3 separate regions of the Homo sapiens genome follow, and regions 2 and 3 are each linked to region 1. Evidence: fine-mapped expression QTL. A gene starts in region 1. Each other region holds a variant in brackets. All regions are shown on one strand. Distances are from middle to middle. Region 1 holds the start of WEE2-AS1 (WEE2 antisense RNA 1). Region 2 has its middle 17 kb from the start of TAS2R5. Region 3 has its middle 12 kb from the start of PRSS37.

Evidence for each region. PIP is the estimated chance that this variant, and not a neighbour inherited with it, causes the effect.
Region 2: its variant is fine-mapped to the expression of WEE2-AS1 in CD8 T cells (Kasela 2017, PIP 0.95).
Region 3: its variant is fine-mapped to the expression of WEE2-AS1 in whole blood (TOPMed, PIP 0.98).

Annotation. Positions count from the first base shown.
Region 1 is chr7:141,736,409-141,739,084 of GRCh38, forward strand. WEE2-AS1 (WEE2 antisense RNA 1) reads right to left here and starts at 1,634. Exons shown (of 4, transcript NR_199841.1): 1 at 975-1,634. It overlaps SSBP1 (single stranded DNA binding protein 1), which reads left to right and starts at 1,950. Exons shown (of 7, transcript NM_003143.3): 1 at 1,950-2,002. RefSeq lists an enhancer at 967-1,852.
Region 2 is chr7:141,806,031-141,808,842 of GRCh38, forward strand. No RefSeq gene overlaps it. Among named protein-coding and RNA genes, the nearest start is that of TAS2R5, 17 kb to the left of the region's middle. The variant G/GATT (reference allele first, on the strand shown) is at 1,407.
Region 3 is chr7:141,827,747-141,830,558 of GRCh38, forward strand. No RefSeq gene overlaps it. Among named protein-coding and RNA genes, the nearest start is that of PRSS37, 12 kb to the right of the region's middle. The variant G/A (reference allele first, on the strand shown) is at 1,380.

The DNA.
Region 1 (2,676 bases):
ACACAGGGGTGCATATTCTTCCTTGTGCCTCAGGCTCCAGTCTGGCTTGGATCCTGTATTCAGTTAAAATTTTAATACAGTCATGCACTTCATAATGATGTTTTGGAAAAAGACTGCATATACAACAGTGCATATACAAAGGTGGTCCCATAAGATTACAATGGAGTTGAAAAATTCCTATCGTCTAGTGACATCATACCTGCTAAAACATCAGAATGCAATGTATTACTCATGTGTTACTTGATATTAATAATGACTATGTCACTGGTTTATGTATTTACTATACTTTTTATTATATTATTATTTAACTTATTTTTTAAAAGTTAACTGTAAAACAGCCTCAGGCAGGTCCTTCAGGAGGGATTCCAGAAGAAGACACTGTTATAGGAGATGACAGCTCCCTGTGTGTCACTGCTTCTGAAAACCTTCCAGTGGGACAAGATGTGGAAGTGGAAGGCTGAGATTGATCATAATGACCCTGTGTAGGCCTAGGCTAATGTGTGTGTTTATGTCTTAGTTTTTTTAAAAAATGGCTAAAAAGTTAAAAAAAAAAAGAAAAAAAGCAAAGGTAGAAAAAAGCTTGTAGAATAAGGATATAAGAAAAATATTTTTGTACAGTGGTACAGTGTGTGTTTTAAGCTAATTGTTATTACAAAACAGTTAAAACGTAAAAAAATTTGGAAGATTTATAAAGTTATAGTGAGTGAAAGTTTATTAAAGGAAGAAAAGTATTTTTTATAAACTGAGTGTAGCCTAAGTGTACAGTGTTTATGAAGTGTTTAGTGGGTACAATAATGTCCTAGACCTTCATGTTGGGCCACCACTCACTCATTTACTCACCCACAGCAACTTCCAGTTCCGCAAGCTCCATTCATGGTAAGCGCCCCATACAGGTGTGCCATTTTTATCTTTTATACCGCATTTGTACTGTACCTTTTCCATGTTTACATATGTTTAGACACACAGATACTTACCATGAATTACAATGGTCTGCGGTATTCAGTACAGCCCCATGCTGTCAGGTTTGCAGCCTGGAAGCAGCAGGCCACACCACAGAGCCGAGGTGTGTCCAGGCTCCACCATCTAGGTCGTCAAAGTACATTCTGTGGTGTTCGTACAGCAACAAAATCGCCTAATGACGCAATCCTCAGACCTTACCCTGTTGTTAAGGTACACATGACTCTTATTTTGTTCCTCCCGGATTTCCTGCATTAATTTTTACTTTTTAAAATATTACATTAATATATTATTTGATTGCCAGTTTTTCTGGTGCTCCCTTAAATTGCACAGCCTGCCAGCCCTTCCCTGGCTCCCCTTTCTTTTTCTGCTTTTCTTAGTGCTTCAACAGACCTGGGACGTTCTTTTTCTTTCTTTTTTTTTTTAATTTTCTTCTTTTTTTCTTTTTCTTGTTTTGTTTTGTTTTGTTTTGAGATAGAGTTCGCTCTGTTGCCCAGGCTGGAATGCAGTGGTGCGTTCACGGCTCAATGCAGCAACGACCTCCAGGGCTCAGGCGATCCCCCGACCTCAGCCTCCGGAGAAGCTTGGACCACAGGCGCGCGCCACCACGCCCAGCTAATTATATATTTTTTGTAGAGACAGGTCTCACTATGTCGCCTAGGCTGGTCACAAATGTTGCTTTTTTTTCCCTCCAGGCAGAGCTAGTCTCTGTTTTGCCTACCTCGCCCCCTCCTGGGCCCAGTTAGAAACCTCATCACATAATTTCATTTCTTTCCAAACTTGAAACCTTCTAAACTTGAAACCTTCTAAACTTGAAACCTTCCAAACTCACCACTTGGCGGCGTTGATCCATCCGCCCGCGCACAAAGAGAAGATCGCGGAACTTCAGAGTTAAGGGGAGCCGTTTCCCGCAGCGCTAGCCGGCAGTATTTCCAAGGCGCAAGTTGCGGAGTTTCTGTTTCCTTTTTCCTCTGGCGAGCTTTGCGTTCCCTGTGCGCCGGAAGTGATCCCCTGCGTGGCTGGGCTGCTCGGGTTAGATCGTCAGGTGAGGGAGGAAGGGATAGCCAGCGCGAAGGAAGTGCTGGAGTCGTGTGTTTTGGCTGCGCGTGATCCTGCGTGGGTCGGGAGGTGTTTCTGTGTAGGTGTCTGGCCCTTTCATCAGTCGTGCGGAGGACCGCGTGATTTCCTTCCAGTTCTCCTCGGTTTTCAGGTGGTGGCGCCATCTTCGGTAAAGGGTGTCCACCTCTCCCTATGGTGTGGCTGGCTAGCCCGGGGGTCTCTACGCTGCTTGGTCTTTGTTAACGGAGATGAAGGCAGTAATTTTTCAGTAACAGGTTTCAGATATAAGTCCCTTGGTGATGCTAATATTTATGGAGGCCTTACTATGCATTAAGAACTTTTTTAGAAGTTTAGAAAATGGCAGTGAATAAAGCAGATACAAATCTCTGCTCTAAGGGAGCTTGCATAGTAATGAAATTTGAGAAGACAGTGGATTGGAAGTGGGATTAACTCAGAATCAAAATTTTGTCGATGGGTTGGAGGAAGAGGAAGTTATTTGGGACCAAAAAGACATACAGGTGTGAGTTTATTTGGGAGGGAGGAAGGAATCCTCATCAGATGTGCAGGAATGTTGGTACGTTGTGGTCACAAAATTGGAGTGCATAAAAATTATGAATATAGTTAGGAATTTAGGACTGGTGAGTTGTACTTTTGCCATAA
Region 2 (2,812 bases), 70 kb after region 1:
TTCACCTTCTGCCATGATTTTGAGCCCCCCCTAGCCATGTGGAACTGTGAGTCCATTAAACCTATTTTTCTTTATAAATTACCCAGTCTTAGGTATTTCTTTATAGCAGTATGAAAATGGACTAATACACTCTTCTTGTGATATTAAGTAAGTTCTCATGAGATTTGATGGTTTTGTAAGGGGCTTCCCCTTTTACTCAGCTCTCATTCTTCTCCTTCTTGCTACCATGTAAAGAAGGACATGTTTGCTTCCCCTTCTGCCATGATTGTAGGTTTTCTGAGGCCACCCACCCCAGACTTGTGGAACTGTGAGTTAATTAAACCTCTTTTCTTTATAAATTACCCAGTCTTGGGCAGTTCTTTATAGCAGCATGAGAATGGACTAATACAGAGGGGAACTTTTGTAACCTGATAGGAGGTATCTACAAAATGCATATTCTTAATGGTGAAAGACTAATGCTTTTCCCCTAAGGTCAGGAACAAGGCAAGGATATCTGCTCTGCCACTTCTATTCAAGATCGTACTGGAAATTCTAGCCAGGATGATTAGGCAAGAAAAAGAAATAAAAGTTATGTAGATTAGGAAGGAAGAAATAAAATTCTCTTAACTTGTAGATTATGTGATCTTGTTTATAGAAAATCCTAAGGAACCTACACTAAAAAGCCATTAAAAGTAATAAATGGCTTCAGTAACTAATAAAAGACTCACACATTTCCTCTGGTGGATGCTAAGGTTTAGAAAAAAAATTACTTGCAGAATACAAGAGCTGTATACAAAAATCAATTGTATGCGTGTACACTAGCAATGAACAATTCAAAAATAAAATTAAGAAAACACTTCCCTTTACAGTAGCATTAAAAAGAATAAAATATTTAGAAATAAATTTAACAAAAGTGCAAGACTTAACACTAAAACACCAAATAGCATTGCTGAAAGAAATCAGAAAAGACATAAATAAATGGAACTATATCTGATGTTCATGAATTGGAATGATGTAATATTTAGATATCGATACTCCCCAAATTGATCAATGCAATCCCTATGTAAATCCCAGCTGGCTATTTTTGTTGTTGCAGAAATTGACAAGCTGGTTCTAAAATGTATATAGTATTGTAAGAGAGCTATAGTAACCAAAACAATTTCGAATAAGAAGAAAAAAATTTTGAGAACTCACACTTCTCAGTTTCAAAAACTTACTAGAAAACTGCAATAATCAAGACACTGTGGTACTGGCATAAAGATAACATACGAATCACTGAAACAGAATTGAAAGTCCAGAATTAAACCTTCACATTTATGGTCAAATGATTTTAGCCAAGGGTGCCAAAACAATTCAATGGTAAAATAAGTTTTTTCACCAAATGGTGCTGGATCAACTGGATATTTACATGCAAAAGAATGAAGTTG[G/GATT]ATTATTATTATTATTATTATTATTATTATTATTATTTTGTGAGTCAGGGTCTTGCTCTGTTGCCCAGGCTGGAGAGCAGTGGCACAGTCATGGCTCACTGCAGCCTCGACCTCCTAGGCTGAAGCAATCCTACCACCTCAGCCTCCCTCCCAAGTAGCTGGGACCACAGGTTCATGTCACCATGGCTGGCTAATTGTTTCCTTTTTTTTTTTTTTTTGTAGAGATGGGGTCTCATTGTGTTACTCAGGTTGGTTTTGAACTCCTGAGCTCAAATGATCCTCCCATGATATCCTTTCAAAATGCTAAGATTACAGGTGTGAGCCACTGTGCCTGGCTTGATGTTGGATTCTTACTTCATACCATATATAAAAATTGACTGAACTTGGATCATAGACGTAAGTGTAATACCTAAAAGTAAGCAACTCTTTTTTTTTTTTTTTTTTTTTTTTTTGAGACGGAGTCTCGCTCTGTCGCCCAGGCTGGAGTGCAGTGGCGCGATCTCGGCTCACTGCAAGCTCCGCCTCCCGGTTTCACGCCATTCTCCTGCCTCAGCCTCCTGACTAGCTGGGACTACAGGCGCCCGCCACCACGCCCGGCTAATTTTTTGTATTTTTAGTAGAGACGGGGTTTCACCATGTTAGCCAGGATGGTCTCGATCTCCTGACCTCGTGATCCACCCGCCTCGGCCTCCCAAAGTGCTGGGATTACAGGCGTGAGTCACTGCGCTCGGCCAAACCTAGGCAACTCTTAACAAGAAAACTTATAGGAGTAAATCTTTGTAACCATCGGTAATCGTTTCTTAGATATGACACCAAAAGCATAAGCAAAAACAACAAAATAGATAAATTGGACTTAATTTTAAAAACGTTTGTGCCTCAAAGGACGCCATCAAGAAAGTGAAGAACGAATTATAGAATGGTAGAAAACACTTGCAAATAATATATCTGATAAGGGACTGGAATCCAAGATATATAAAGACTTCTTACAACTCTCTAGTAAAGAGACAATACAAGTAAGAAAGGGCAAAAGGGTTTTAATAGGTATTTTTCCAAAGAAAATATCCAGATGGCCAATAAGCACATGAAAAGATGGTCAACAACCTTAATCATCAGGGAAATGCAAATCAAAACCACAATGAGGTACTACTTCACACCCACCAGGATGGCCAAAGGAAAAAAGACAATAATGCATACTGATGAAGATTTGGAGAGATTGGAATTCTCATTCATTACTGGTGGGAATATAAACTAGTGAGCCCCTGTGGAAAACAGTTTGGCAGTGCCTCAAAATGTTAAATACAGAGTTACCCTATAACTCAGGAATTCCATTTATAGGTATATAGCCAAGAGAAATGAAAATACATAGCCATACAAAAATTTGTGCACAAATATTCATGGCAACGTTA
Region 3 (2,812 bases), 91 kb after region 1:
GAGTGGCAAGATCACATTGCAGAAGAGCTTGTGGAATGGGAGGTGTTGTTGTGGCTATTGTTGGAAAATGTAATCTACGACACATCTCTTCCTCCCTTTTATGTTTTCCATCCTCTTCATGTTTTATTTTCAATTTTGATTTTTTAAAATAATTTCAACTTTTATTTTAGATTCAGGGATTCGTGTGCAAGTTTGTTACCTGAGTGTATGGTGTGATGCTGAGGTTTGGGTGTGATTGATATCATCATCCCAATACTGAACATAGTACTCAATAGTTAGTTTTTCAACCCTTGCCCCCTCCCACCCTACCTCCTCTAGTAATCTCCAGTGTCAGTTGTTGCCATCCATATGTCCGTGAGTACCCAGTGCTTAGCACCCACTTGTAAGTCACAACATGGGGTATTTTGTTTTCTGTTTCTGCATTAATTTGCTCAGGATTATGGTGTTCAGCTGCATCCATGTTGCTGTAAAGGATATGACTTTATTCTTTTTTATGGTTGCATAGTATTCCATGGTGAATATGTACCACATTTCCTTTATCCAATCCACCATTAGTGGACACCAAGATTGATTCCTGTCTTTGCCATTGTGAATAGTGCTGTGAGGCATATATAAGTGAATGTGTCTTTTTCATAGAACAATTTATATTCTTTTGGATACATACCCAGTAATCCAGTTGCTTGGTTGAATGGTAGCTCTGTTTTCAGTTCTTTGAGAAATCTCCAAAATGCTTTACACAGTGGCTAAACTAATTACATTCCCACCAACAGTGTATAAGTGTTCCCTTTTTCCGCAGCCTCACCAGTATGTTGTTATTTGACTTTTTAATAATTGCCATTCTAACTTCATGTTTTATTGCTTTGTCTTTGTTTCCCCAAGTGCTGATCTAAAGTTCTGGTTCTACAATAAGCATTTATTTGGTCTGGAGGACTCCCATACACTCCATATCTCTGAGATGATGCACAGTCTAATATAGGCCATTATGATAGTCTTGTGGTTTGGGAGCCTAGGCGGGGCACTGCCATAGGAATATGTGTTTCATAACACTCAATTGGTTTGTTTTTTTGGTCTTTCCAAGGGTGCTATGTTGTTCACACCAGCTACCTCTGTGTTAGCTCCAGAGCTAAAAATGTGTCCTGGTGCTTTCCTTATTCCTTGAGAACTTTTTTTTTTTCCTTTTTGAGTTGTGTCTTCCTTTTACCAGTGCTTCTGTAGACTAGAATCCACACTTGGGTCCGTGACTCTGTGAATAGATCTTTCTTCATTGCCACCAGACCCTCACATAAATTGGTTGGATAGAGATCATAGCTCTTTCCTGCAAATTCCCTTCATATCTTCCCTTTATTTCATGGGAATTATTTTCCAGTGATAGCCTGCTC[G/A]TATGTTCTGTTTGCCTGAACCTCTTCCCATGACTTAATTCCAAGACCCTTCAAGATTGCCTACTACAAACTTATGAATCTCCCTAGTTTGGGGCTGATGCTCTAATCTCACTCTCTGTGCAGTAATTTGATCCTCTGGATTAATATCATGGGGGATTTTATCTAGTAATTTCCAGTGTTTCTCTATAATTAGAATTTTACTCAAATTTGCCACCCTGTTTTTAATAAAGCTCTGAAAATTCCAGTTTTTCAGACTTATAAGATAATATTTATCTTAATCAAGAATATTGTGTTTGCTTTCTCACTGGGAACTAACCAGTTTATACATATCTTCTGTCTTTAATACTTGGATATTGAGCATCCTTTCCTTACTTAGAGTATGGAACAGCCATGAAGATGGCCACTTGAGTTTTTTTCTGCCTACTCACTAGGAGTCAGTGATGTGGTTTGAATTTATGTCCCTGCCCAAATCTCATGTTGAATTGTAATCCCCTATGTTGGACGAGGGGTGTGGTGGGAAGTGATTTGATCATGGGGGCAGATTTCCTCCTTGCTGTTCTTGTGATAGTGAGTTCTCATGAGATCTGGTTGTTTAAAAGTGTGTAGCACCTCCCTCTGCTCTCTCTTCCTGCTTCCCTAGCCATGTAAGACGTGCCTGCTTCCCCTTTGCCTTCCACCATGATCAAAAATTTCCTGAGGCCTCCCCAGCCATGCTTCCTGTATGGTCTGCAGAACTATGAGTCAATTAAACCTCTTTTTTTAATAAATGACCCAGTCTCAGGCAGTTCTTTATAGCAATGCAAGAACAGACTAATACAGTCAGATATGCATGGATATTTGATTCCATATTCTCTGAATTTTTTCCCTTCTTAGACATAGTTCCTCCTTCCTTCTGTTGTTTAGATACCATTTGAGTCGATTGTATCCTAAAAATGTTTTGTCAATACTTAACTATAAATATTACTTTAATATTGCATAATTTATTTATAAAACTTGATTAGAAACCACATTTTTAAGATATCCTGTTAAAAGTATTTTCTGAACATTAAACAAGACAGCTATATTTTAAACATTAAATGTTATTTTTCCTAAAAAATGAAGAAACAAAAACCCAAAGGCAGACCCTAGATTTTTTTTTCTGATGTTTTCTGAGTAGTAAGGGTTTTTGAATCCTCTCTATAACAAAATAAGCAAAAAGATAATATTTATATGGCTAGAAGCCTAGCGGTGAGCTGCCTGAAATTGCATGAATTCTGTTTTCTAAATAGAGAAATATTTTTTCTCCATAGTTGCCTTTTTATCTGCAATGGCTTTCTTTCATTTTTTGGAAGAAACCATTTTCAGATTTTTCCACTTAGTCTTAATTGATTATTTAACTCAGTCATGTATGTTCCCGTGATACATTCTGTCAAATCCTTCCCTTAGCAACCATC